Homo sapiens: one gene and its partners. The protein of the gene in region 1 purifies or fractionates together with the protein of each later gene. This does not show direct contact. Each region holds a gene or a part of one and is shown on either strand. Other genes may lie near its edges.

Region 1 (3,155 bases):
GCTCAGAGTCTCCAAAATTACAACATGGTGGCCGAGCGCAGTGGCTCACACCTGTAATTCCAGCACTTTGGGAGGCCGAGGTGAGCAGATCACGAGGTCAGGAGTTTGAGACCAGCCTGACCAACATGGTGAAACCCCATCTCTACTAAAGATACAAAAATTAGCTGGGCGTGGTGGCGGGTGCCTGTAATCCCAGCTACTTGGGAGGCTGAGGCAGGAGAATCACTTGAACCCGGGAGACGGAGGTTGCAGTGAGCCAAGATCGCACCACTGCACTCCAGCCTGGGTGACAGAGTGAGACTCTGTCCCCACACAAAAAAACTAAAGCATGGACTGGCTTACCTGTTTGTTGTCCTGTCTTCTCCTCTATGAGATCTACGAGGGCAGGGTCTTGTCAGTTTTGTTCACTGTGGTGGCCCAGTTTCCCAGAACCTAGAACAGTGCCTGCAAAATAGCAGAAGCTCAAGAAAGATTGGTTGAATGAATAAACTGAATACTTCTCGGGAAAAAAAAATGATTTTTTTCTTTAATAGTAAAATAATATACGTCTTGGAAAATACAGCATACAAAATACAGAAAATATAATTGAGCACTTTTATGAGCATATCGATCATTGAATCGCGAGTCTGCATCGCCTATCTCTCCGCGTCTCTTGCGTGCGTGTAGGTATATAAATGGTGTATAGGCTTGTGGGTGTGCATGCATAGACAGTCCTTCTTGGGTACTCATAAGGGGGCTCAGACCCTCAGGTGCCCCTGAGTCTTAACCCCACCCCTTCTTCATCCGTCCTGTTCCTGAAGACGACCATGAAGGTGACTCTTCATTGAGAGCCTCTGGAGGCTGGGAGCTTTTAGAGTAAGGCTTTGCAATGTAACCGTGAGGTAGCTATGATCATCCTTATTTCCAGATGTGGGAACTAGGCTTCCCAGAGGCTGATGATATGACCAAGGCCACACAGCTGGCAAACAGTGATTCCAATGGTCTGGAGGTCCCTAGGCCTCTGTTCTCTCAACCTGGGGCTTTCAGTTTCCTCAAGTCTGATTATCTGCCCTCTTCAAGGTGCTGCTCAGAGGGTCTGGGGCTCAATGATGAAAACTGGGATGGGTCCCAAGGGCAGGTGGAGTAGTTACATCCACCAGTCCATAGACTCTTTGGGGCAAGCCCTGACGATGACCATACAGTGGGGCAGCCCCTTACACAGGATCTTCTCCGCCTCCTGACCCTCCCACCCCAGCCCCTGCAGCTCAAGGACTCTGAGCTTGGGCATAGTGAGGCAGGAGGAGAGGATTTCAGTGGGGGAGGGCATTTCTGGGGTGACGAGGGGACCCTGCAGGCACAGACTCTCCAGGGCCGGCATTCCCTCCAGCACAGCCAGGCCAGGGGCAGAGAGGCCCCTCACGGTCAGCCGGATCTTGCGCACATCTCGGAGGTGGCGGCTGATGGCCAGCAGGGTGCTGTCGGCAGACAGGGTGCAGCCCAGCACCTCAAGCCTCTGCAGATAGCTGAGCTCCTGCAGGCCAGCATCCAGCCCTGTCTCGGTCACACGGTAGGTACCACCCAGCACCAGCGAGCGCAAGGCCCGGAAGCGCGTCAGGCCCTGCAGGTGCTCGTCACGGAAGGCGGGGACGCGGTCCAGCACGATGCATTCAAGCAGGGGCAGCACGGTGGGGTCCTGCTGCTTGTGGAGCCAGGCCATGGAGATCTCGCAGCTGTGCAGCTCCAGGGTCCTCAAGGTGCTGGGCAGGCTGGTGATGGGCACCATGCTCAGGTCGGCCACGTGCAGGCAGAGGCGCTTCAGGTTGGGGCACTTCTGGCCCAGGGCTCTCAACAGAGCAGGGGACAACTGGGGGGCCTGGGAGCCAGAGAACAGGTAGCCACCCATCCGCAGGGAATGGAGCCGGGATGCCATGTACCTTCGAAGGAGGTGCCACATGACTTTAGGTCGCATCTGTAAGAGCCAGAGATTGGGGTGACAGAGTGAGAGGTATGGAGCTTCCAAGGCCCCTGCTGGGCTGGAGACACACAACCCCGGGGTGGGGGATTCTGGTGCCCTGCTGGGCTTCTGCCCTTGCCTAGCCAGTCTCCTCCCCAGGTTCAACCTCCCCAGGTTCAACCAGATGGTTTGAGTGCACCATCTTGCCTGCTAGGGCTTTGAACAAATCTTTTTTTTTTTTTTTTTTTCTGAGACAGGTTCTTGCTCTGTCACCCAGTCTACAGTGCAGTGGTGAGATAATGGCTCACTGCAGCCTGGACCTCCTAGGCTCAAGTGATTCTCCCACTTCAGCTTCCCAAGTGGCTGGGACTTCTGACACATGCCCAGCTAATTTTTGTGATTTTTAGTAGAGATGAGGTCTTGCTATGTTGCCCAGGCTGGTCTCCAACTCCTGGATTCAAGCAATCCTCCCATCTCAGCCCCTCAAAGTGCTGGGTCTACAGTCGTGAGCCACTGCACTCGGCCACTTAGAATAAATCTGGTAGGGGCTGGGCACAGTGGCTCATGCCTGTAATCCCAGCACTTTGGGAGGCTGAGGTGGATGGATCATTTGAGGTCAGGAGTTTAATACCAGCCTGGCCAACATGGTGAAACCATGTTTCTACTAAAAATACAAAAATTAGCTGGGCGTGGTGGCAAGCACCTGTAATCCCAGCTACTCAAGAGGCTGAGGCAAGAGAATCACTTGAACCCAGGAGACAAAGGTTGCAGTGAGTCGATATCGCACCACTGCACTCCAGCCTGGGCGATAGAGTGAGACTCTGTCTCAAAAAAAAAAAAAAAAAAAAAAAAAGATAAATCTGGTAGGGGAAAAAAAGATACTAACAGAATCTATCTTTAGCAATAAATTTTTACCGTTTTTTCTGGACTAAGAAAAAGAGCAGAGCAACCCATTGATATTTTACCCCTTTCTTAATGATCACCTCCAGTAGAAATAAGCAACACAGAATAAAATTTTAAAAGCCGAAAACTACCCAGAGTAAATTAGGTCTATGTTAAAAAAAAAAAAAAAAAAACAACAAATGAAAAGGCTGGGCACGGTGGCTCACACCTGTAATCCCAGCACTTTGGGAGGCCAAGGCGGGCAGATCACCTGAGGTCAGGAGTTCAAGACCAGCCTGACCAACATGGAGAAACCCCGTCTCTACTAAAAATACAAAAT
Region 2 (3,168 bases), on another chromosome or scaffold:
ATTGTTAGGGCTACTTGTAGCCCCTAAATTTTCCAGAAACTGAAAGTGAGATGAGATGGGCTCCTTTTCCAGCTCCATCACTCCCTGAGTCTCTGAGAAGCTTGAGAATGAGAGCCTGGTCTGTAGCTGTCCAGTAAACATCTGCTAGCTTATCTGCCCCTAAATGTGCCCAAAGGGAGGAGGGCCAGATGTGTTAATGAACATTTACTTGTTCTTCTTTATATGAATACAAGCTCTTGGTCCCTCCTTTCTTATTCAAGGAAGGAGATTGTACAGCAGACCTCACGAACTATCTGCAGTCTCATATGGTATCCATCTGTGCCTAAGGAAGACTGCTTGTGATTAAGACTTTTGACCTAAATAGTAGGTCTCTGCCCATGTCTGCAGTATAATCATCTTTCCTCGTTTGGCATTTTGAATGTGTAGCTTTTTTTGTTTTTTTTGCATGACATTTTTTTTGACGTTACATTGGATGTGTAGTTAACTTTTCCTGGTTGGTTGTACTCGTAGGATCTCTATGACGCTGGAGTGAAGAGGAAAGGAACTGATGTTCCCAAGTGGATCAGCATCATGACCGAGCGGAGCGTGCCCCACCTCCAGAAAGGTGGGCACTGTGCTGAGGGAGTCTCAGTGCCTTGGGGCCCTGGCTGGGGCGGCTGGGTGGATGTCCATGTTGGGATGGAGTCTGCCAGAATGAGGTTCTGTCTCCGCTTGGCACTCTCATAGGCTCACCCATTTTCCCTCACCTTTCTCTCCCATTCTGGATTCTTTTCTCTTGCAAATAGTTTCTGCATTTGGTGCTTTATTCTGCAGCTCCTTCTTGTTTGATGATCATTTGGTCTTGCCATTATTTGTTGAAGTAGTGGACTTTGGTGCATGCTCTGTACTGTTTCCTATGGTTTTCGGATGGAATGGGTTCCACTCAGGGGAGATAGAGATGGTCCAAATATGTGGCCTGGGCAGTGCCATTCAGGACAGGTGGTATGGCTGTTCCACGACAAACTTGGCCAATGTTGGCTCTGGTCACCGTGGTAACCTCTAAGCTCCTAGGATGCTGTGATCATCCTCAATTTTTAAAAAAATTATGGTGCATAAAACTAGGTGGGTGATCGTTGACAGCTTTGACTAGTGGCTCGGATCTGATAACTCTTTGTTGTTTTTCCTCAGTATTTGATAGGTACAAGAGTTACAGCCCTTATGACATGTTGGAAAGCATCAGGAAAGAGGTTAAAGGAGACCTGGAAAATGCTTTCCTGAACCTGGGTAAGTGAATGTGGCCCCCATTCCTGGTAGACATCAGCTACCAGAGCAGAAGTGACAGATGGCCATCCTGTTAATCCAAATGTGTTTGGGAGGTGTGGCTTCTATGCATGCTTTGGATAGTTTTACAGTCTTAATTGTATAGATTTCAGAATATAAAACTGAAGAAAGGCCTAACTTGGTAACAGATTGTTGCCAGGGAGGAGTAAGAGAACAGGAGGAGAGAGGGGTGTGTTGTGGAAACTCACGTATGCACTTGGGTTCTGCAGGCCTCAGAGACCCCTGGTTTAAAACCGTGGTGGAACTTAGTATTGCAGAGGATTTCTAGATTTCCCTTAGCCTGTCCTATTTTGCAGCCCTTTTCCATTGCATTAGGTCACTTCTGGTTTGTGGCCCAGGGCCAGGGCATCCTCTCTCATTGGTAGAGGAGAGACCAGAGCAGCTGCAGCGCTGACTCCCTTTCTTCTCTCCACAGTTCAGTGCATTCAGAACAAGCCCCTGTATTTTGCTGATCGGCTGTATGACTCCATGAAGGTAAGGGCAGCTGGCTGAGAGAGCTGTGTTTCCACACTCAGCTTTTCTTCTTTTGGGTCCCAAATTGAGTCTCCTTGATTCATGGATGGAGGAAGGGGACCCCACTGTGTGGATGCAGGAACACACTAGTCAGCTGTGGTTGTATGTGACAGCTGAGAGAACCACAAATCTGTCTTCTTTCTCTCAGCTGCTTGAACATGTATTTGCGTACAGACAAAAAGTAAAGTGCCATGGGAGAGAGAAAATGCGACATGGTAGTCGTGTCTGATCCCTGCTTAGGTTTCTCCGTGATTTCTTCCTGTTACTGCCAGAGTCAAGACAAGCGAGGAAGGGAGCGATTATTAAGCACCCACTATACAGTGGACAAGTGCTACTATTTTACCTTAAATCATTGCATAACAACCTCTGAGGCTTATGATTATCTTCTTTATAAATGCAGAGATGGAGCTCAGAATACCTCAGCCTGCTTGAAGTTACACAGACAGATTTGAACCTGGGTCTATCAGACCCCAAAGACAGCCCCACAACCCTTCCCTAAACGAACCACCTCTTCCCGTAGACCCATCCCATTTTCTACACCTCAAGTGTGCCATGTGTTTTCTGGCTTCTAGGCTTTTGCATTTTCCTTCTGGAACATCTCCCTTGTCTGTGCTGCCTCTGCCATCTGTCTTTGAGTTCCATATCAAATAGCACCCCTTGGTGCCTTCGCTCTGATGCTCTGGAAGTAAACTCAGTGGTCTTTATTGCACATATCATTAGAAATGGCACAGAGCGATGATAGAAATGTGTTGGCATGTTCCCTCTAAGCCTGCAAGAGTCAGGAACCTCTTGTTACATATGGAGACTCAGACTGCTTGAACTGAGCCTTGCAGTAGTAGGTGCTCAGTATATATTTATTGAATGGTGGCATAGAGTGGGAGTCTGTGCTGACTACAGCCTGGTGTGTTTGGAATTCCCAGATGCTCTTCTTTCTTTTCTTTTCTTGTCTTGTCTTTTTTTTTCTTTCTTTTTTCCTCCCTCCCTCCCTGCCTTCCCCTGCCTCCCTGCCTTCCCCTCCCTCCCTGCCTTCCCCTCCCTCCCTGCCTTCCCCTCCCTCCCTGCCTTCCCCTCCCTCCCTGCCTTCCCCTGCCTCCCTGCCTTCCCCTCCCTCCCTGCCTTCCCCTGCCTCCCTGCCTTCCCCTCCCTCCCTGCCTTCCCCTGCCTCCCTGCCTTCCCCTCCCTCCCTGCCTTCCCCTGCCTCCCTGCCTTCCCCTGCCTCCCTGCCTTCCCCTGCCTCCCTGCCTTCCCCTGCCTCCCTGCCTTCTCCTGCCTCCTTGCCTTCCCCTGCCTCCCTGCCTTCACCTCCCTCCCTTTCCTTCCCCTCCCTCCCTTTCC
Region 3 (3,500 bases), on another chromosome or scaffold:
CTGGGGAGCTGCTAAGTCAGCTCCTGGCAGCACAGAACAAGGTGCTCAGTCCCTTGGGCCTGTGAGGCTGTCACACCTGAAGTTCCTATATAAGAAACGCCTGCAGCTTCTTGGTCATGAGAAGAGGATGACATAAGAAGTAAAAAAGTCTAGAGATGAAAAGTTGAGAGCATCTCTTGTTCTATGCAGCATGCAAGGCAGACAGAACATAGACTATGGAACCAGGCAGACCTGGATTTGGACTGAGCTTAGCTGTATAATAGCTGTGTGATCTTGGGTAGGTTCCTTCACTCCTCTGAGCCTCAGAACTCACCCTATAACATGGGATGAGCTACATCTGTCCTTCAGCACTGTAGAAAGAATAGATAACAAATGTACCATCATGGCACCTGGGACATAGTACATGTTACATAAAATGGTCACGGTTTTCATAGCCTATCCTATGTAGGATGATAAAGTCCAGTTACATTACAACTCTGGAATTCCAACTCCTCCTGTCCCCAGTTTCCCAGCTGCCCTTCCCTAAGATGGAAGGAAAACACATAGGGGTCAGTAGATCTGGGATCTGGCATCTGCTTTACCACAGGCTTGGTGACCTTGATTTCCCCATCTTTATATAGAAGTGTTTCAGTTAGATAATGTCCTAAATTTTTCCATTTCTGATATTTGATAATCCTGGAACCATGGTGTATCATTTCCCTGAAACTTGTATTGTCTCTTCGTTTGCTACAATGCAAAGTTTCTAATCATTTACCTGGTTTCCAAGCTGCTCAAGACAGAGTCTTCTCCAAACACAATGATCTTTCCTCTAATCACATTGTTCTCATTAGCCATCCTGCAATCACCCCAAAATAATCAGGAGACAGGAGAAGGTAGCAGCAATGGCTATGGGTGCTTAGAAGAGGGAAGGCTCTGTGGGATGGATAGTGTTTAGGCTCACTCTTAACAGGGTAGTGCAAATTCAGCCCATCTCAAGTTTTGTCTACTGTGGATTCTGGGATGACACTTAGCAAACACAGAGTTCTAGTTCTCTAAGATCTCCTGTACACCTACAATGTGCCAAGTAAAGGGTGAGTCACCACAGCCCCAGAGATGAAGGAGGTACATTAGCTGCTCACAGGGTACATAGGCAAACAGCGTGAGACACATGAGGAAACACACAGCGTAAATTCTGGTCTCACTCTGCTCCAAGCCACCATTACTTTTCATCAGTAGAGACTCCTTCAGGCTTTCCTGCACCCATCGTTGGTCCTGTACAGAGCAGCGTAGGGAATTCTTTTGAAACATAAGTCAGACCTTGGCACTGTTTTGCTTAAAATTCTACAGAGCTCTTGATTTCACTCAGAGTCAAAGCCCAAATCCTGACAGTAGTCTGTACAGCCCTACATGACTGTTCTTTTCTTCTCTGACGTCTTGTCCTGCCACCCCCCTCCTCCACCACCACTTGTTCACTGCATTCCAGCCACACCGACCTTCATGCTGTCCCTTGAAAGGTCCAGGTGTGCTCCTAAGCTAGATAATCAGCTAGGATTATCTAGCTAGGAGCTGTTCTCCGCCTGGAATGTGCTTTTCCTAGATGCTGCTTGGCTAACTCCTTCCCCTTCTTTTAGCCTTTGTTCCAATCTCACATTCTCAATAAGCTCTTCTCATTCTATCCTATTTAATATTAAAACCCGTCTCCTTATCTCAGAACTCTCGATTCTCTTTTCCCTTAGTTTTTTCCCTTTTCCATAGAATTTTTCATCTTCTCACATACTACATAACTTATTTACTTATTATGTCTGTTGTCATTGTCCCCTAACACACACACACACACACACACACACACACACACACACACACAACACAGAGGGATAAAAGCTCTCTGAATGCAGAGATCTTTGTCTTTTGTTCTCTGATGTATCCTAGGCACATAGAACAGTGACTCTCACATCACTGGTGCTCAGTGATTCAAAGGGCCTGGCTATGATTATAGCAGTCTTTATTGATAGTGGGCACCAAGGCTCAGAGTGTTCAACTCTGGTGCAGAGGGGTCAGAAAAGGCTTCAAAAATAAGTTGACACCTGAATTCGGTCTTGAAAAGCAAGAAGGAATTTCCCCAGGGGATGGTGAGGTAGAGGTGCCAAATAAGAAGGAAGGGTTCTTAGTAAAGGACAATCTGGCAGAGTGTGATCAGGGACCTTGTACTACTACAATAGGGAGAGGGAAATTCAACACCTTCAGAACAATGGGGAAGCAGTGAAGTGCTTTACAAGAGGATGGCCATTATCAGATTTGGGCTTTTAATAAAATCACTTTGTCTGCAAGTACGGAGGATGGATTAGAGGGGATAAGACTAGAGGTAGACAGATCAGTGCGTTGACTGTTGTAATTGTAGTAGAGAGAAGTGTTGAGGCCTGACCTTGACAGTGACTGCAGTGCTGGGGATGAAGAAGTAGTTTCCCTTCATAGTTTGTAACCTACAACATGCTTGTCAAATTTCAACTCACAGACTTGGATGCTTACATATTCCAGTATGCTAGTAAGAAAGCTACACATATTTCAGTTTTGAATCTTGCATTGTGTAGTCATCACCCACTCCTTTTCCATTCAAAAGGGAGTTCTTTTGGGGGGCTATTGTCCAAAAGAGCTATAGTCAGTAGAGAAAAGCCAGTGAAAGGAGAGAACAAGTGCTAGAAAATAGAACAACTCTCATTGAGCATTGCTGCCTGCCTCTTTCTGGGGGCAGAGAGGCTGTCTGCTCCATTGCAAGGAAAGAAAAACCAGCTCTCTCTCTCTCACTATAGTTAATCTTTTGTTGCCACTAGCTGGTCAGTATGAGAACGTGGGAGAGTATCAGCTCTGGAAAGGAAGCCTCCTCTAATGCTGCTCCACCCCAAGGTTAAACCCGACTCTTTTTTTCCTTTCCTGAAAAGAGCAGATTTCCTCCACCCACCCCCAAAGGCAGCTAGGGTGAGAGGCAGTGAGGCTTCCTTCTGCCCCAGAACAAAACCCATCAGCCCAGGTGCTTAGGATAGATTGGAGCCAATCAGTTGGATACTCAGGCAGGAAAACCAATTCAATTTCCCTAAGGAGATTTTTCCTTGTAGATTTTTTTTTTTTGGCAGGGGGAGAGGAAAGAGTGTCCCCCTTTATGATGCTGAACTAACTTGTAGAATCTGTGATATGTTTAAACCCAATGCCTTCTGTGAGAGGCCCAGCAATGTGATAGAAAGAGGCAGTGTGGGCTTCAAGACAATTGGGCTTAAATTTGGACTGTAGGGTAGGTTTCTTCCCTTATCTAGGCCTCAGTGTTACCATATAAAATAGAGGGGTTGAATTCAATGCCTTGTGAGTCTGTGATGCTGGGAGCCCATCAAAGTCGACGGTTGTGGTGACAGTTTTCCAGACTTCATTCAAGAGGTCGCTGTCAGTCTATCCTCCTCTCCCCACATCACACATATTCACAATGGCCTATGGCAAACAAGGCTTAGTGTATAACAAAGCAAGGAGGTGAGAAG
Region 4 (3,500 bases), on another chromosome or scaffold:
TCCACTCTGAGGAGCTGTGAGGAGCAGGGCTCTGCCAGGGCTGGTGGGCACTGACCTGCCTGGCCTCTGTCCCTGGGGCCTGTCTACCCTGGCCTGTCTTCCCCCGGCCCAGCCCAGGTGGCCTCCTCAAGGTCAAGCGCCAAGGTTCCGCTTCTAGGGGGTGGTCTCATCAGGGCCAGTCTGATGCCCTGCACACACCCGACGGCTGGGCACAGGGGCCCGCACGGCCTGAGCTTTGTCAGAGCAGTCCCCCAGACCCAGTCGCGCGAAGATGGGCCCCTCTGCTCAATCCTGAGTCCAGCCTGGCCTGGTAGAGTCCCGAGCAGAAATGTCGGGGCACCTAACAGTTTCCCCAAGGCACTCCAGACAGTGCCCACTGCCCCTCACCTGTCGCTCCAGGCTCCCGTCCACTCCACCTCGCCCCAGGGGTTCCGCATCCGGATCAGGCTCACCACCTGGCCTCGGTAGTTCACCTATTTGCCAGAGCTCCTGTCAGTGCTAGCTTCCAGCAGGCACTTTTTTTTTTTTTCTTTTTTGAGACAGAGTCTTGCTCTGTCACCCAGGCTGGAGTGCAGTGGTGCGATCTCAGCTCACTGCAACCTCCGCCTCCTGGGTTCAAGCAATTCAATTCTCTTGCCTCAGCCTCCCAAATAGCTGGAATTACAGGCACCTGCCACCACACCCAGGTAGTTTTTGTATTTTTAGTAGAGACAGAGTTTCACCATGTTGGCCAGGCTGGTCTCGAACTCCTGACCTCAGGTGATCTGCCCACCTCAGCCTCCCAAAGTGTTGGGATTACAGGTGTGAGCCAGTGCACCTGGCCCATGCACGCACTTTAACACTCCGCCTCCCATACCCTCATCCTCTCCAAGCCCTGCTCAGCACCCAGATGAAGCCTGTCCTCTTGGAATTCACAGCCCAGGCAGGCAGCTGCACACATGAACTACAGTCAGTCAGGGCAGGACATGATAGGCATCTCAGATGGGTGTCCCCAGAAGAGAGATAAGGTGCTGCAGGAGGGGAAAGGAGGAGCCAGCACCTTCCACAGCCCTGGTCAGGTGCCAGAGAGGCAAGGACAGGCCAGGGGGCAGGAACCGCCCTTCAGGGAAGGCCCCACCCAGGGCAGTACCTGCTTGGCCCCGGTCACAGAGTAGGCATGGCCCTTCACCAACTTCTTGAAAGTGATGGCCTCCATGTCTAGAACGCTGGAGATCTGCAGAAAGAGGCACACACTGTGGTCAGTGGCTAGGTCCCCCCGCCCTATCAGATGAGCCCCCAGCACTCAGGGTCTTGGACGTTCCCACTTGCACATACAACAGTTGCTAGGAGAAGCAAGCAGGGACCCCGATCCCACCTATAGACACCCCCACATATAGATGCTGCTCTTTTGGAGAGGGGTAGCCTGGGTACCCCACCAATGCTGCCACTGGGACAGGGGAGCCCAGGCACTCCGCTGACACTGCTACTGGCCAGGGCTGACCAGAACCTGTGCGAACATGCATGTGCACACACACAGCCGTGCACAGCCCACCAGAGCCACACAGCCCTCAGTGGGCCTCACGGAGAAGGACGTGAGGACAGAAGAGTCAGTTAGAAATGGGAATGGGAGCTGGGGTTAGAGCTGCGGATGGCAGTGATACTGGGGTCAAGTCTGGCGTTGAGGACTGGGGAGCGGAGTTGAGTGTGGGAACAGAGGAGCAGGGAAGGGTGGGAATGGAGTGAGTGTGGGATTGAGGCTAGGGATGGGTGGGAACTGAGACCAGGAGATGAAATCTGAGGCTGGTGAACTGGACAGAGGATGGCATGGATTGAGATGACAGGAATGAGGGAAACAGCATGGTAGACGGGAAAACAAGCACAGGAAAGAGCTGAGGTGTGAAGTTTTGGGGGAGGAGTGGGTAGGTGAGGACAGGAGCGACACCAGGCATGGGGGGTGGAAGTGATGGATGAGGCAGGGTATGCATCCAGAGATGAAGCTTAAGTGCAGGACAGGGTCTGGAGCGGAGCCTGGGTGGGGATTTTAGAAAATGTGACAGGTCAGGATACCAGGGTTCCAGGGTACCAAAGCATCGGGGCCGGGCACACTCACGTCTATGGAGCAGCCCAGCAGGGAGCCCCGCTCCAGCGCCTTGAGGATGATCTGGTAGAGGTCACTGGGAGCCTTGCGCAACTCGTACCACTCGGTAACCCCGCCTGTGAAGTCCTCAAAGCCCTCTGAGGTGCTGCCCCCTGACAGGGCCTCGTAGCTGCCATTTACCCTGTGGGCAGCTCCAGGTCAGCACTCTGGCATCAAGCAGGACCCTCTGAGAAGACAGTCATGAGCCCCCACCCCTAGGGGGAGCTGGAAGCTGGAGTTGCCCCCTCAGCCGCTACTCACTTGGCATAGGCCTTCTCAAGCAGGGCGCTCCAGAACTCGTTGCCTTCGGCAGAGTGCACGAACACTAGCTTCCCGTCCTTGATGGGCAGCAGGTCATCCACGACCACGTCCACCCACTCCCCAAATTGCCACAGCTGTGGGGGAGGGGCACGGTGAGTACCTGCTTTGGAATCCCCCGGACCTGAGCTCCATCCTTACCCCTACCTTCCTAGATGCAGGATTCTACATCCCAGATACATACTAGATACACATAGACTAAATCATGTAAATTAGATACATACTAGATGTATACTAGGTCAGGTATACCAGATACATAGTAGATGCATGTATACTAAATCACATATACTAGATACATACTAGATGCATGTGTACCTCTAGATACATGTATGCTACAGATATACTAGATACATGTATCTAGGTATTGAAGGAAATCAAAGTATTTCACCCTGAAATATACTTCTTCAACATATTTTGAGATAGCTGTTCAGAGGGTCTGCAAACAGAAGTAGCCCTGTAATACTGTCTTTTGTGGGGGAGATTTGCATCTGTAGAGAAAATCTGCATTGATGTAGCCAGGCTTTCTCTAAGGCCTTCCCTTGTCAGACTGAGAGCCTGACACCCTTTAAAGGTCTGAACGAAACAATTACCATCTATTCCCTCTGAGGGCTGCTACCTGTGAGGTTTCATCTACATAACAAGACTGCCTTTGCTACCCAGGCCCCCTTTTCTCCCCCTTCCATAGTCTGTCTTGCCACTATAACCTGATTTACCACCAGAAACTGGTTTTGGCCATGTTCGAGCCCCCATTCTTCCTGTAACCTCAGGATGGTATATAGGCTTCTGTACCCATTGTGGGGCTGGGGTGAACACTCTGTGGTTCCCGACCCCACGCTGCAGGCTAATCAATTTGTATGCCATTTCTCCTACTAACCTCCTTTTGTGAGTTGATTTTTCAGTGAACCTTCAGAGGGCTAAGGGGATGCTTTCCTTTGCCTGTACAATGTATACTAGATACCTGCATATTTGCTGTATACTAATACATGCATACCACATATAGACATGTGTATACTTGATATGTACATGTATGCTCGAGACATACTAGCTACATGATCCTGGAAAAGTT
Region 5 (3,500 bases), on another chromosome or scaffold:
AACCAGAACTGGCCTCAATCCATCACAAGTTGATGTACAGAATACAGGTAAGATATTTTTAAGCTGTATTTCGCTTAAAGCTAAATGAAGACTCCTCCCTGTAGCAACTGCATGTAGAACTCAGCAGTGCCAATTTCTTCGCGGCATCATAACTTCCTCCCCAGGAAGGCATAAGAACCTCTGACTCAGACAGATGAACTACCCGCAGTTGGGCAGATCATTTTCTTTATTCAGTTCTTGATATTCTTAAATGCCAGCATGTTAAGTCAGTGTGAGGATCTGCCCTCTAGTTCAGGAGGGCACTTTTTGTGTATGTGTGGCATGTTTTCATGCCACAGACATGTCTTTTTTGAAAGCAGAAGTACTCTTATAGGCTGGGTGAGAGGTGAGAGCGTGCGGGCAACCCTTGCTCGCTCTCAGCACCTCCTTGGCCTTGGCACCCACTCTCGCCACGCTTGAGGAGCCCTTCAGCCCACAGCTGCACTGTGGGAGCCCCTCTCTGGGCTGGCCAAGGCTGGAGCCGGCTCCTTCTGCTTGTGGGAAGGTGTGGAGGGAGAGGCGCAGGCAGGAACCGGGGCTGCGCGTGGCGCTCACAAGCCAGAGCGAGTTCTGGGTGGGCGCAGGCTCAATGGGCCCCACACTCGGAGCAGCTGGCCGGCGCCGCCAGCCCTGGGCAATGAGGGGCTTAGCACCTGGGCCAGCTGCTGAGGAGGGTGCCCCGGGTCCCCCAGCAATGCCAGCCCACCAGCGCCACACTCGAATTCTCGCCGGGCCTCAGCCACCTCCCCGCAGGGCAGGGCTCGGGACCTGCAGCCCGCCATGCCCAAGGCCCCCACCCCGCCCCTGGTGGGTTCCCATGCTGCCCGAGCCTCCCTGATGGGCGCCGCCCCCTGCTCCACAGCGCCCAGTCCCATCGACCGCCCAAGGGCTGAGGGGTGCAGGCGCGCAGCGCTGGACTGATGGGCAGCTCCACCCACAGCCCCGGCGTGGGATCCACTAGGCAAAGCCAGCTGGGCTCCTGAGTCGGGTGGGGACTTAGAGAACTTTTATGTCTAGCCGGAGGATTGTATATGCACCAATCAGCACTCTGTGTCTAGCTTGGGGTTTGTGGATGCACCAATCAGCACTCTGTATCTAGCTAATCTGGTGGGGATTTGGAGAACTTTTATGTCTAGCTAGAGGATTGTAAAAGCACCAGTCAGCACTCTATGTCTAGCTCAAGGTTTGTAAATGCACCAATCAGTGCTCTGTGTCTAGCTAATCTAGTGGGGACTTGGAGAACTTTTATGTCTAGCTAGAGGATTGTAAATGCACCAATCAGCATTCTGTGTCTAGCTCAGGGATTGTAAACGCACCAATCAGCACCCTGTCAAAACGGACCAATCAGCTCTCTGTAAAATGGACCAATCAGCAGGATGCGGGTGGGGCCAGATAAGGGAATAAAAGCAGGCTGCCCAAGCCAGCAGCGGCAACCTGCTCGGGTCCCCTTTGACACTGTGGAAGCTTTGTTCTTTCAGTCTTTGCAATAAATCTTGCTGCTGCTGCTCACTCTGGGTCCGCACTGCCGTTATGAGCTGTAACACTCACTGCGAAGGTCTGCAGCTTCACTCCTGAGGCCAGCGAGACCACGAACCCACCGGGAGGAATGAACAACTCCAGACAGGAGGAACTAACAACTCCAGATGCGCCGCCTTAAGAGCTGTAACACTCACCACGAAGGTCTGCAGCTTCACTCCTGAAGCCAGCAAGACCACGAACCCACCAGAAGGAAGAAACTCCGAACATGTCCGAACATCAGAAGAAACAAACTCCGGACACACCATCTTTAAGAACTGTAACACTCACTGCAAGGGTCCGCGGCTTCATTCTTGAAGTCAGTGAGACCGAGAACCCACCAATTCCAGACACATGGGCATGGTGGCTCACACCTGTAATCCCAGCACTTTCGGAGGCCAAGCTGGGCGGATCACCTGAGGTCAGGAGCTCGAGACCAGCCTGACCAACACGGTGAAACCCCATCGCTACCAAAAATACAAAAACTAGCTGGGCATGGTGGCACACGTCTGTAATCCCAGCTACTTGGGAGGCTGAGGCAGAAGAATCGCTTGCACCCAGGAGGCAAAGGTTGCAGTGAGCCGAGATCACACCACAGCACTACAGCCTGGGTGACAGAGCAAGATTCCATCTCAAAAAAAAAAAAAAAGTACTCTTATATAATCACAGAAAAGTACATTTTGTTAGAACAAAAGAGATTGTTAGTAACAGAAATATGTCAGCACCCAGCACAGTACCAGTCCCTCATTAAATAATCCATTAAATGAAAACACCTAAAATCATGTTAGCTCAAAAATTAACCCCAAATCCCAGACAAACACAGAATCTGTTTGGCATGAAGCCATGGGCCTACATATATTGTGTAACCCCAAGAGCTGGGTGACTCCACACAAAATACACTCCGTGTATTTTGGAACCGAACTTCTTTTGCTAAGCCAACTGTTGAAGGCTTAAAGAGACTGCAATTGGGTCCCCGGCCAGCAATAACATGCAATAGCAAGAAAATAAAATGTGTGTTTTCCACAGTAAACACATATGTTGGAGATGAGTCAAGAAATTCTTACCTGGTCTAAATACTGAGGGAGAAGCTTTGCCAAGATCTTGGCTGTATTTTCACTCAGTTCAGAAGGCTTTATAATCACAGCATTTCCTAAATAAAGTAAAAAGTAGAACAGTATCATCTAATATTTAACTTTAATAGCTACCAAAATGATGTTCAGTGGGAAGAACAGGCTAGGTACTCCCAATTATTTCTGCAGCTCTCAATGCTGCATATCCTCATAATTAGCATAAGAGCTCATCTCACTTTCTCTTCTAAGGCTAACTCCTTAGCTGTCCTCATCTTCAGGTCACTGACAATGGGTTCCAGCAGCCTTTCCCACTCCTCCAGCTTTCTATCGCTTTTCTCCCACTTCTGCCCTTAGATTGTCCTCTCTGCCCTGGAATTATTGGGCAAGTGAGCCATTTCAACATACATCTCTCTATCTGGATCCTGCAAAGTGAGAAATTAATCTCCTGGCATTTGCTATATACCCAAGCTAGCATTACTCTCATAGTCTTTATTTGAATGAAGAAACTGGTCAGACAGAATCAAATGGTTCATCCGAAGCCAGAGCCAGCAACTGAAACCATATTAGAACATGGATGCCTGACTCCAAACTCCTGGGCCTGCTGACTCACACATCTTTACACTCCCACAGGTTCATTCCCCAGGTGCTTCAAAACATAGCCACACAAATCTCCTCAGCAGCCCATTTAAAAATATGTATGGTATGTATGAATTCTCAGTACACTGGTGGTGTAAACAAAGGCAAATCACCAAGTAAATGTATTTAATTAGCCACTATCCTTAATTTCCAATTAATATGAGAAAATAAGCCTCCCTAAAAAGGTATATAGACATAAGGTGGCACCAGACCTGCAGCGATGGCTCCTATCAGTGGCTG
Region 6 (3,500 bases), on another chromosome or scaffold:
TCTTTGTAATCTGACCTTGTCCAGAGAGTGGATGTTGGAACTTTTGCTTTTCTTAAAGTGGTTTGAAAACAGCTATTCTGCAGTAAGTTATTTCAGAGACATAATGAAAAAATTTTGGTCTTACATGAAGTCAGATAGTGTAATAAACTGTTGATATAGAACCAAAAGATCCTGGCTTTAAGCTCTGGTTCTGATGCTGAGAAGCCCTGTGATCATGAACAAATGACTGTATTCTTTAGAACTTTTGTTTCTGTCATCTGTGAAAAAGAGATAATAATAGTTCTTCTACCTACAACACTCAATGTGTTACTTTTTTTTTTTTTTTTTAAAGGGTGGTAGTTTGATGCAAAAATTAGTATGTGGACTGTAGTGGCAGAAATCCTGGGTTTGAGTCCTGGTACCAGAGCTTGTTGGCTTTCTAATTTTATAAGTCATTTAAAACCTGAGGCTGGGCCTCAGGACTTTCTTATGTGAAATGGAGAAAATACCTTGTAAACTCTAAAGCACTCTGAAAATATTACTCTTCATGACTGTACAGTAGATCTCATGGGTAAGTCAGTAGATATAATTTTATTGTTTTTTCAGGTGCTTTGGGAAAAAGAACACGGTTCCAGGAAAATTATGTGGCACAACTGATTCTAGATGTAAGAAGGGAAGGGGATGTCCTTTCAAATTGTGAATTCACTCCAGCACCCACTCCTCAGGAACATTTAACCAAGGCAAGTAGGACATTAAGTTATTAAATTCAATTAACACCTGAGTCTAAGAATTTCAATAGCTGAGTACCATAGAAACACTGAATGGGTTGGGGACAGACTTCATTTTATTCTTTCTTTTGCCTTTTAAAGGTTGCTGAGTCAGGGAGAACTGGTGTTTAACTGGTGTTTTTTTTTCCTAACCTGTGATAGAAAAAACTGGTGTTTTTTTTTTCCTAACCTGTATATAGAGATAAATACTGTTTTTCTTCTAGGATTCAATAACTATGAATTAATGATGCAGTTAGTTATGTATTACCCCTCTTGAAGAAATACGAAAGGCAGACTGGGTGTAGACCAGTTTCTCTATCTGCTATCATATTTGTTTCCTTATGTTTGTCTTCTCTTGGAATCTCTTAGGCTTTTTCTAAATATATAAACATTATCAGAATTCCTTTTCACTAGTTTTGTGATCGGCCTTTTGTTTCTCTGTCATTATTGGGGGGGTGGTTGCCTTAGTATGTTTATTTGACATGTCTAGTGAATTCTCTTCTTTAGTTTGAATTATGACTCTTGGTCAGTTTACCTAATTATAGTCCACTCCAGCTGCTTCCATGAAGCCGTTTAGTATTTATGCATGTGTTTTCTGATCCCAGAAACCCCCAACTACTTTTTTTTTTTTTTTTTTTTGAGATGGAGTCTCACTCTATTGCCCAGGCTGGAGTGTAGTGGCGTAATCTCGGCTCAATGCATCCTCCGCCTCCTGGGTTTAAGCGATTCTCCTGCCTCAGCCTCCCGAGTAGCTGGGATTACAGGCATGCACCACCACGCCCGGCTAATTTTGTATTTTTGGTAGAGACAGGGTTTCTCCATGTTGGTCAGGCTGGTCTCGAACTCGCAACCTCAGGTGATCCACCCGTCTCGGCCTCCCAAAGTGCTGGGATTACAGGCGTGAGCCACCACACCTGGCTGTGTTTGTTGTTTTTTAATGTGGAGTTGTTCTATAGAAAAGTATCTCCCAGTGATTGACCTGGCATGGTGGCTCATGCCTGTAATCCCAGCACTTTGGGAGGCTGAAGTGGGTGGATCACTTGAGGTCAGGAGTTCGAGCCCAGTCTGACCAAAATGGTGAAACCCTGTCTCTATTAAAAATACAAAATTAGGCCAGGTGCAGTGGCTCACGCCTGTAATCCCAGCACTTTGGGAGGCCAAGGTGGGTGCACGAGGTCAGGAGATTGAGACCATCCTGGCTAACATGGTGAAACCCCGTCTCTATTAAAAATACAAAAAAAAAAAATTAACCGGGCGTGGTGGCGGGTGCCTGTAGTCCCAGCTACTCAGGAGGCTGAGGCAGGAGAATGGCGTGAATCTGGGAGACGGAGCTTGCAGTGAGCCGAGATCATGCCACTGCACTCCAGCCTGGGTGACAGAGCAAGACTCCGTCTCAAAAAAAAGAAAATAAACAAAAAAACAAAATTAGCCAGTTGTGGTGGTGTGTGCCTGTAATCCCAGCTACTTGGGAGGTTGAGGCAGGAGAATTGCTTGAACCCAGGAGGTGGAGGCTACAATGAGCAATGAGTGCAATTGCATCATTGAACTCCAGCCTGGGCAACAAGAGCAAAACTCCCTTTGAAAAAAAAAAAAAAGAAAAGAAAATTATCTCCTGGTGATAAATAGGATATGATGAGTATTATGAGAAATGTATGAAAATGATGTACCATTTAATACAGAATTTTAATCGTTTTTTTGCTTGTTCTTTCTTTTCTTTTCTCCTTTTCTTCTTTCTTCCCTTCCTCCCTCCCTCCCTCCCTCCCTCCCTTCCTTCCTTCCTTCCTTCCTTCCTTCCTTCCATTTTTAAATGGAGATGAGTTCTCACTATATTGCCCAGGTTTGTTTCAAACTCCTGGGCTCAAGCAATCTTCTTGCCTCAACCTCCCAAAGTGCTGGGATTCACCATGTAATACATGTTACAGGGTTAATGTGGTTAACATTTTTAATATATTACATGTGGCTATCAGAAATTTTTTCAGAATTATTTTATTTTAAAAATTTTGGCTGGGCGTGGTGGCTCACGCCTGTAATCCCAGCACTTTGGGAGGCCGAGGTGGACGGATCATGAGGTCAGGAGATGGAGACCATCCTGGCTAACACAGTGAAACCCCGTCTCTACTAAAAATACAAAGAATTAGCTGGGAGTGGTGGCAGGCGCCTGTAGTCCCAGCTACTCCGGAGTCTGTGGCAGGAGAATGGCGTGAACCCGGGAGGCGGAGCTTGCAGTGAGCTGAGATCGTGCCACTGCACTCCAGGCTGGGCGACAGAGTGAGACTCCATCTCAAAAAAAAAAATAAATCAATAAATAAAAAATAAATTTTACCTGTTTATCTATTTAGAGACCAGGTTATGAGACTGGCTAATTTTTGTATTTTTGGTAGAGATGGGGTTTCACCGTGTTGCCCAGGCTGGTCTCGAACTTCTGGGCTCAAGCCATCCACTTTCCTCAGCCTCCCAAAACTGTTGGGATTATAGGCATGAGCCACTGCACCGGCCAGAATTTAATCTTTTGTATGTGAAATAAAATACATTCAGATAATCTTATGGTCTTTGTTAATTACTACTTGAAGATGGAGAGTACAAGTTGTATGCTGTAGGTATGGATTAGATAGAAACATAGCTTTATTCTAATGGGTGGAAGAGAATTGTTAAGTTGGTTATATATCATATTACCTTGTGTTAAACACATTATTAGATTGTAATATACACCATCTGTTTAATAACCATTTTTCAGGAAAAGGAAAGGAACACTAC
Region 7 (4,172 bases), on another chromosome or scaffold:
GCTAAGCTCCTTCACCAGGGCTTGACGGGCCTGGGAGGGCCCATCAGTGAGCAGGGGCCAGCCCTCAGGATCCCAATGCAAGAGGTGGCAGTGAGGTCAGGTCAGCTCAGGAAGGGAAGTGTGGCAAGAGCCACCATGACAGCCTGTGGGGCTTGGCAGCCACATAACTGGCAGGTGAGGGATGCACATAGGTCCAGGGGAGAAGCACGTAAGGCGCCTGGGCCTATAGTGGGCTCTACCACAGGGGCAGAGGGTGGCTGGGGGAGAAGCTTGGGCAGGGACTAGGCTGCAGGCACATCTGGAGGCTCTTGGCAGAGGTAAGAAGGCCAGGGAGGAGTGGCCCAGGCTCAAGGAAGCTGACCAGGGAGACGGCCTAGCTAGAGAGGCCAATGAGAGCACCCACTCAATCTGAGACTGGGAAACAGGAAGACTTAGGGAGCTGACAAGGGTTGAGGGCAGGGTCCTGGAGCATAGGTCAAGCAGGGAGGCACAGTCCTAGAAAGACCCCAGGATCTACGTATGGCTGGGTCAGCCCTTTGAGGCCAGGTCTCAGGGAACAGGGAGCTGAGAGCTGCAGGGAGTGAGGCTGACAAAGCAGCACTTGTACCTATGCGCCCACCTCTGCCCAGACTCTGCAGTGCCCTGGGGATTGGGAGGCTTCAGCTGGCTCCTTGGGGCTTGCAGTGGTTTTCTGTCCAGTCCCCACGCCGTGCCCAGGAAGAGTCTTCTCATGGCTCCCTGGCCATCCGCCTGCCACCTCCACCTTCTGCACAGGCAGCCGAGTCACGGTGCCTACCTCACAGTACTGCTCTGCACAACCTTCATTCTTGCTGGTAGCAACACTGCACAGGGCTGGAAAGTGCCTCCAATCCTTACTGGAGCCTAAGCGTAGCTCTGCTTCTCAGAAGAGCACAGTCTCTGAACAAGGGGACCCAGGGGGCCTGCAGACAGCTGCAGGAAGGCCTGGTCTGAGAAAGCCTGGCAAAGGGGACCCTGGAGCTGGTGTCCGGCTGCAGGGGCCTCAGGTGGGTGTGGCCCTCTCCACCCATGGCTCTGGGGCCAGCTCCCGCTCCAACTGCTCCTGCTCCCTGCAATCCAGCTGCTGCAGCTGCTGCTCCACATCCTCAGGCACCTGCACCTCCAGCAGGTTTTCCATGCCACGTTCAGGCTCGTCCCCAATAAGCACCTGCCAGACGGGAAGCAGGTGAGCAGCTGGCCAGCTACAGACACCCCTTCCCCAGCCTCTCCAACCCTGCACCAACCTGGATGAGCTTCTCACAAGCCGTCCGCACGTCGGGCTCCGGCTCCCAGCTGTGCAGCTCTCGAAGGATCAGGTAGGCTCCCTGGTCCCGCACCTGCTGCCGACCTGGTGCTGTGGCTGTCAGCTGAGGAGGTGGAAGAGGTTACCCAGATGTCAGCATGCTCATGTGTGTGTGTTGGGGTGGTGCTTATTGCAGCAGGGCTCCTGCTCACCAGCATGATGGCTTCAACAAGCATCTTGCGGATGTCTGCATCAGGTTCTCGCTGCTTGTCTGGTGGCAGGTACTGCAAGTCGACAGGCAGCCCTAGGGGTGAGTGTGTGGGAGCCACTGTGTCCCTGGGCTGGGCAGCTGAGCCAGGCTCTGCCTGTGTAAGTCCCACCTGTGCTCAGCAACTCACTGCTGCAAAGTTTCAGGAGCCTGTGGCCTGGACACCTCTCTCTCCCTCCACTGGCCTCCCTCCTCTCCGGCCAACTCTGAGGCTCCACACTAGCCACTCACGTTCCATCTCTTCCTCGGAGAAATCCTCAGGCCCAGCCAAGGGCAGGAGCAAAAAGGGGAGAATGTCCACCTCAGGTCCAAGCAACCACTCGTGATGTCCTGAGGGATGGTGAGGGTGGGGAGACGGGAATGGAAACTGGTCCAGAGCAGCCCCGGAGTCCAGTCCCCACACCTGGCAACGCACCCCCGCCACACCCACCACTCACGGTGCTCGAAGCAGCAATTCCGCAGCGTCCCCACCACCCCGCCCCTGCGTACAGAGGAGTCGGGGTACTGGGTAAGGGGCAGCAGCCGCTGGACCACGCACCTGTTGGGAGGTGTCACTTAGGGCCGTCCCCCCTAACTTCCGTCCCCTCCCCGCCCGCGCGGGCGCCCTGGGCTTCACCTGTCGGGGTCCAGTAGGAAGGCCCGCGCCGCAGGGCGTTGGCTGAGGTTGGAGAGCAGCGGCGCTAGGTAGTGCAGGGGCGCGCGGGCGTTGTAGCCGGGCGTGCACAGCGCGCGCACCAGCCGCTCCAGGCCCGAGTCTGCCGGCTCCGCGGCCGCCAGCGCCGCCATGAGCGCTGCACACGGCGCCGGCTCGCGACTGAGGTTGGCTAGCGCGGCGGCCGCCTCCTCGGCCCAGGGCCACTGCGGGTCCAACGCGCGGCCCATCAGGCGCGCTGGCAGCCCGGGGTCGGCCGCCAGCAATGTCTCGTGCAGGCCGGGGTCGGCGGCCAAGTTCACGAGCGCGCGGGCGGCGTCCCGGGCCGGGGCAGAGGCCGGCGCCAGCTCCATCAGCGCCTGCAGCAGCGCCGCCTGCCCCGCCAACAGCGCGCGGCCGGGTCCGCAGCCAGTCAGCGCCAGCACGTGCCGCACCGCCGCCGCCTGCAGGTCCGCCCGCGCGCCCGGCGCCAGGAAGGGCAGCAGCTTCACCACCTCTGCCTCCGGGCTTGCCTCCGGCCCTCCCGAGGCGCCAGCGCCAGCCCCGGCCTCCCCCATGTCGAGCGACACTCTGCTGCCACCCGACCGGTGCCAGCGGTCCGCTTAGGGGTCCGCTGTGTGGCCCGCAACCCCGCCCACCAGAGGAGCGAAAGCCGCCCTGGCCAATCCGAGGCTGCGCACTGGGCTCAAGGGGCGGGACCGGCGTGCGGAGGGGAGGGGCCAGGCCGCGCGCGGGGAGTTATGGGTCTCGGCGTCTGGCCGGAAGCTGCGGAGGTTGGAGACTGAGCGCTGTGATGTCCCGAGCCATGGGGACCGAGGCCCGGCGCGATTTGGCCGCCTGCCGCGTCCACACTCGCTGGAAGCGTCCATGTAGTCTCGGCTAGGTCGGCCAGTGCTTCCCACTGGGCGCTGGCCACGCCGAACCTGGTCAGCCGGCCCTGGCTTCTCGTGGGCCCTGAGGGTCTGAGGCCCGCGCCCCGGCTCCTCGACTAGGCTGTCGGGTCAGAGAAGGGCTGAATGGGGGAGTGGCCACGGGCCTCTCGGAAGGAAGGCCTGCTCTTGTCCAGGCTGGCACGGCCACCGAGAAGCTCAGGCCGTCCAGGGACAGGACAACACAGGGCCCCAGTGGGGACCTGAGGAGGCAGCTTTGGAGAGGCCTCTGGGCATCTCTGAGCTGGTAGCTTTGGGGCATTTGTCAGGACGTCTTCAGTCGCAAGTGACAAACCCAACTCAAACTGACTTGCACGAAGAGAAAATTTGTAAATGGAGGTTTGGAGGGAGCCAGCTTCCGGCACTGCTTTATCCAGGAGCTCTCTGGAGCCTTGTACTGTCTACCCTACCATTGCTCTCCCTCTCTGCTGCCCTGCTGCTCTGTGGCTCCATATCATTTCCACCTGCCACTGGCCGATTTTCTCAGAGCAGTTGGGAAAGAAAGACACTGGGACCTCCCAGTTCCATGGTCGTGGCAGAAGAGTTTCTCTGTCCCAGTATTGGAGTCTGCCCCAGAAAAGGACTCCAGTTCTTCACGTGTCCTCCACTGTGGGCGGAGCAGCAACCTTCTAGAGACACACAGACTGGGAGGAAGGGAGGGCAAAAGAAGGGCATTCCCTCACTCCAGCATTTTTTGGGCACCAGCCATCTGCCAAGCTGGTAGCTCAGGACACGGAACCAAACAACTTTGGTGGCCATTCTGGCCTCAGGGTCTTTGCACTTGCTGTCTCTTCTGCCTGGAATGCTCTTTTCTCAGCTGTACACAAGGCTGGCAACTTCTAATTATTTGTCAGAGCTATCTTCCCTGGGCAACTTACAGAGACTCAGCCCACCCGCCACCCATGACTGCTTGGTTTCTGTCTGCCTCCTTCAAGATAGCAGTACTTAGGCCAGGTGTGGTAGCTCATGCCTATAATCCCAGCGTTTTGGGAGGCCAAGGCAGGTAGATCACCTGAGGTCAGCAGTTTGAGACCAGCCTGGCCAACATGGTGAAACCCCTCT

Evidence for each region.
Region 2: the proteins of FBXL12 (region 1) and ANXA2 purify together in Homo sapiens (affinity purification with mass spectrometry, with the first as the bait; one study listed by BioGRID). This does not show direct contact.
Region 3: the proteins of FBXL12 (region 1) and ASTN2 purify together in Homo sapiens (affinity purification with mass spectrometry, with the first as the bait; one study listed by BioGRID). This does not show direct contact.
Region 4: the proteins of FBXL12 (region 1) and CAPN1 purify together in Homo sapiens (affinity purification with mass spectrometry, with the first as the bait; one study listed by BioGRID). This does not show direct contact.
Region 5: the proteins of FBXL12 (region 1) and ALDH3A2 purify together in Homo sapiens (affinity purification with western blotting; one study listed by BioGRID). This does not show direct contact.
Region 6: the proteins of FBXL12 (region 1) and TTC27 purify together in Homo sapiens (affinity purification with mass spectrometry, with the first as the bait; one study listed by BioGRID). This does not show direct contact.
Region 7: the proteins of FBXL12 (region 1) and HGH1 purify together in Homo sapiens (affinity purification with mass spectrometry, with the first as the bait; one study listed by BioGRID). This does not show direct contact.

Annotation. Positions count from the first base shown.
Region 1 is NC_000019.10:9,809,770-9,812,924, forward strand, and holds the end of FBXL12 (F-box/LRR-repeat protein 12), read right to left. Parts: intron 1,949-3,155; coding exon 1,127-1,948; 3' UTR 501-1,126; downstream 1-500. UniProt on the Homo sapiens protein: Substrate-recognition component of the SCF (SKP1-CUL1-F-box protein)-type E3 ubiquitin ligase complex.
Region 2 is NC_000015.10:60,349,819-60,352,986, reverse strand, and holds part of ANXA2 (annexin A2), read left to right. Parts: intron 1-510; coding exon 511-604; intron 605-1,167; coding exon 1,168-1,263; intron 1,264-1,735; coding exon 1,736-1,794; intron 1,795-3,168. UniProt on the Homo sapiens protein: Calcium-regulated membrane-binding protein whose affinity for calcium is greatly enhanced by anionic phospholipids. It binds two calcium ions with high affinity. May be involved in heat-stress response.
Region 3 is NC_000009.12:117,405,058-117,408,557, forward strand, and holds part of ASTN2 (astrotactin-2 isoform g precursor), read right to left. Parts: intron 1-3,500. UniProt on the Homo sapiens protein: Mediates recycling of the neuronal cell adhesion molecule ASTN1 to the anterior pole of the cell membrane in migrating neurons. Promotes ASTN1 internalization and intracellular transport of endocytosed ASTN1.
Region 4 is NC_000011.10:65,184,928-65,188,427, reverse strand, and holds part of CAPN1 (calpain-1 catalytic subunit), read right to left. Parts: intron 2,512-3,500; coding exon 2,378-2,511; intron 2,259-2,377; coding exon 2,090-2,258; intron 1,214-2,089; coding exon 1,130-1,213; intron 474-1,129; coding exon 388-473; intron 15-387; coding exon 1-14. UniProt on the Homo sapiens protein: Calcium-regulated non-lysosomal thiol-protease which catalyzes limited proteolysis of substrates involved in cytoskeletal remodeling and signal transduction. Proteolytically cleaves CTBP1 at 'Asn-375', 'Gly-387' and 'His-409'.
Region 5 is NC_000017.11:19,651,751-19,655,250, reverse strand, and holds part of ALDH3A2 (aldehyde dehydrogenase family 3 member A2), read right to left. Parts: coding exon 3,473-3,500; intron 2,705-3,472; coding exon 2,619-2,704; intron 1-2,618.
Region 6 is NC_000002.12:32,666,050-32,669,549, forward strand, and holds part of TTC27 (tetratricopeptide repeat protein 27), read left to right. Parts: intron 1-585; coding exon 586-719; intron 720-3,500.
Region 7 is NC_000008.11:144,136,402-144,140,573, reverse strand, and holds the start of HGH1 (protein HGH1 homolog), read right to left. Parts: upstream 2,801-4,172; 5' UTR 2,739-2,800; coding exon 2,146-2,738; intron 2,068-2,145; coding exon 1,967-2,067; intron 1,860-1,966; coding exon 1,761-1,859; intron 1,566-1,760; coding exon 1,474-1,565; intron 1,386-1,473; coding exon 1,263-1,385; intron 1,187-1,262; coding exon 1,022-1,186; 3' UTR 1-1,021.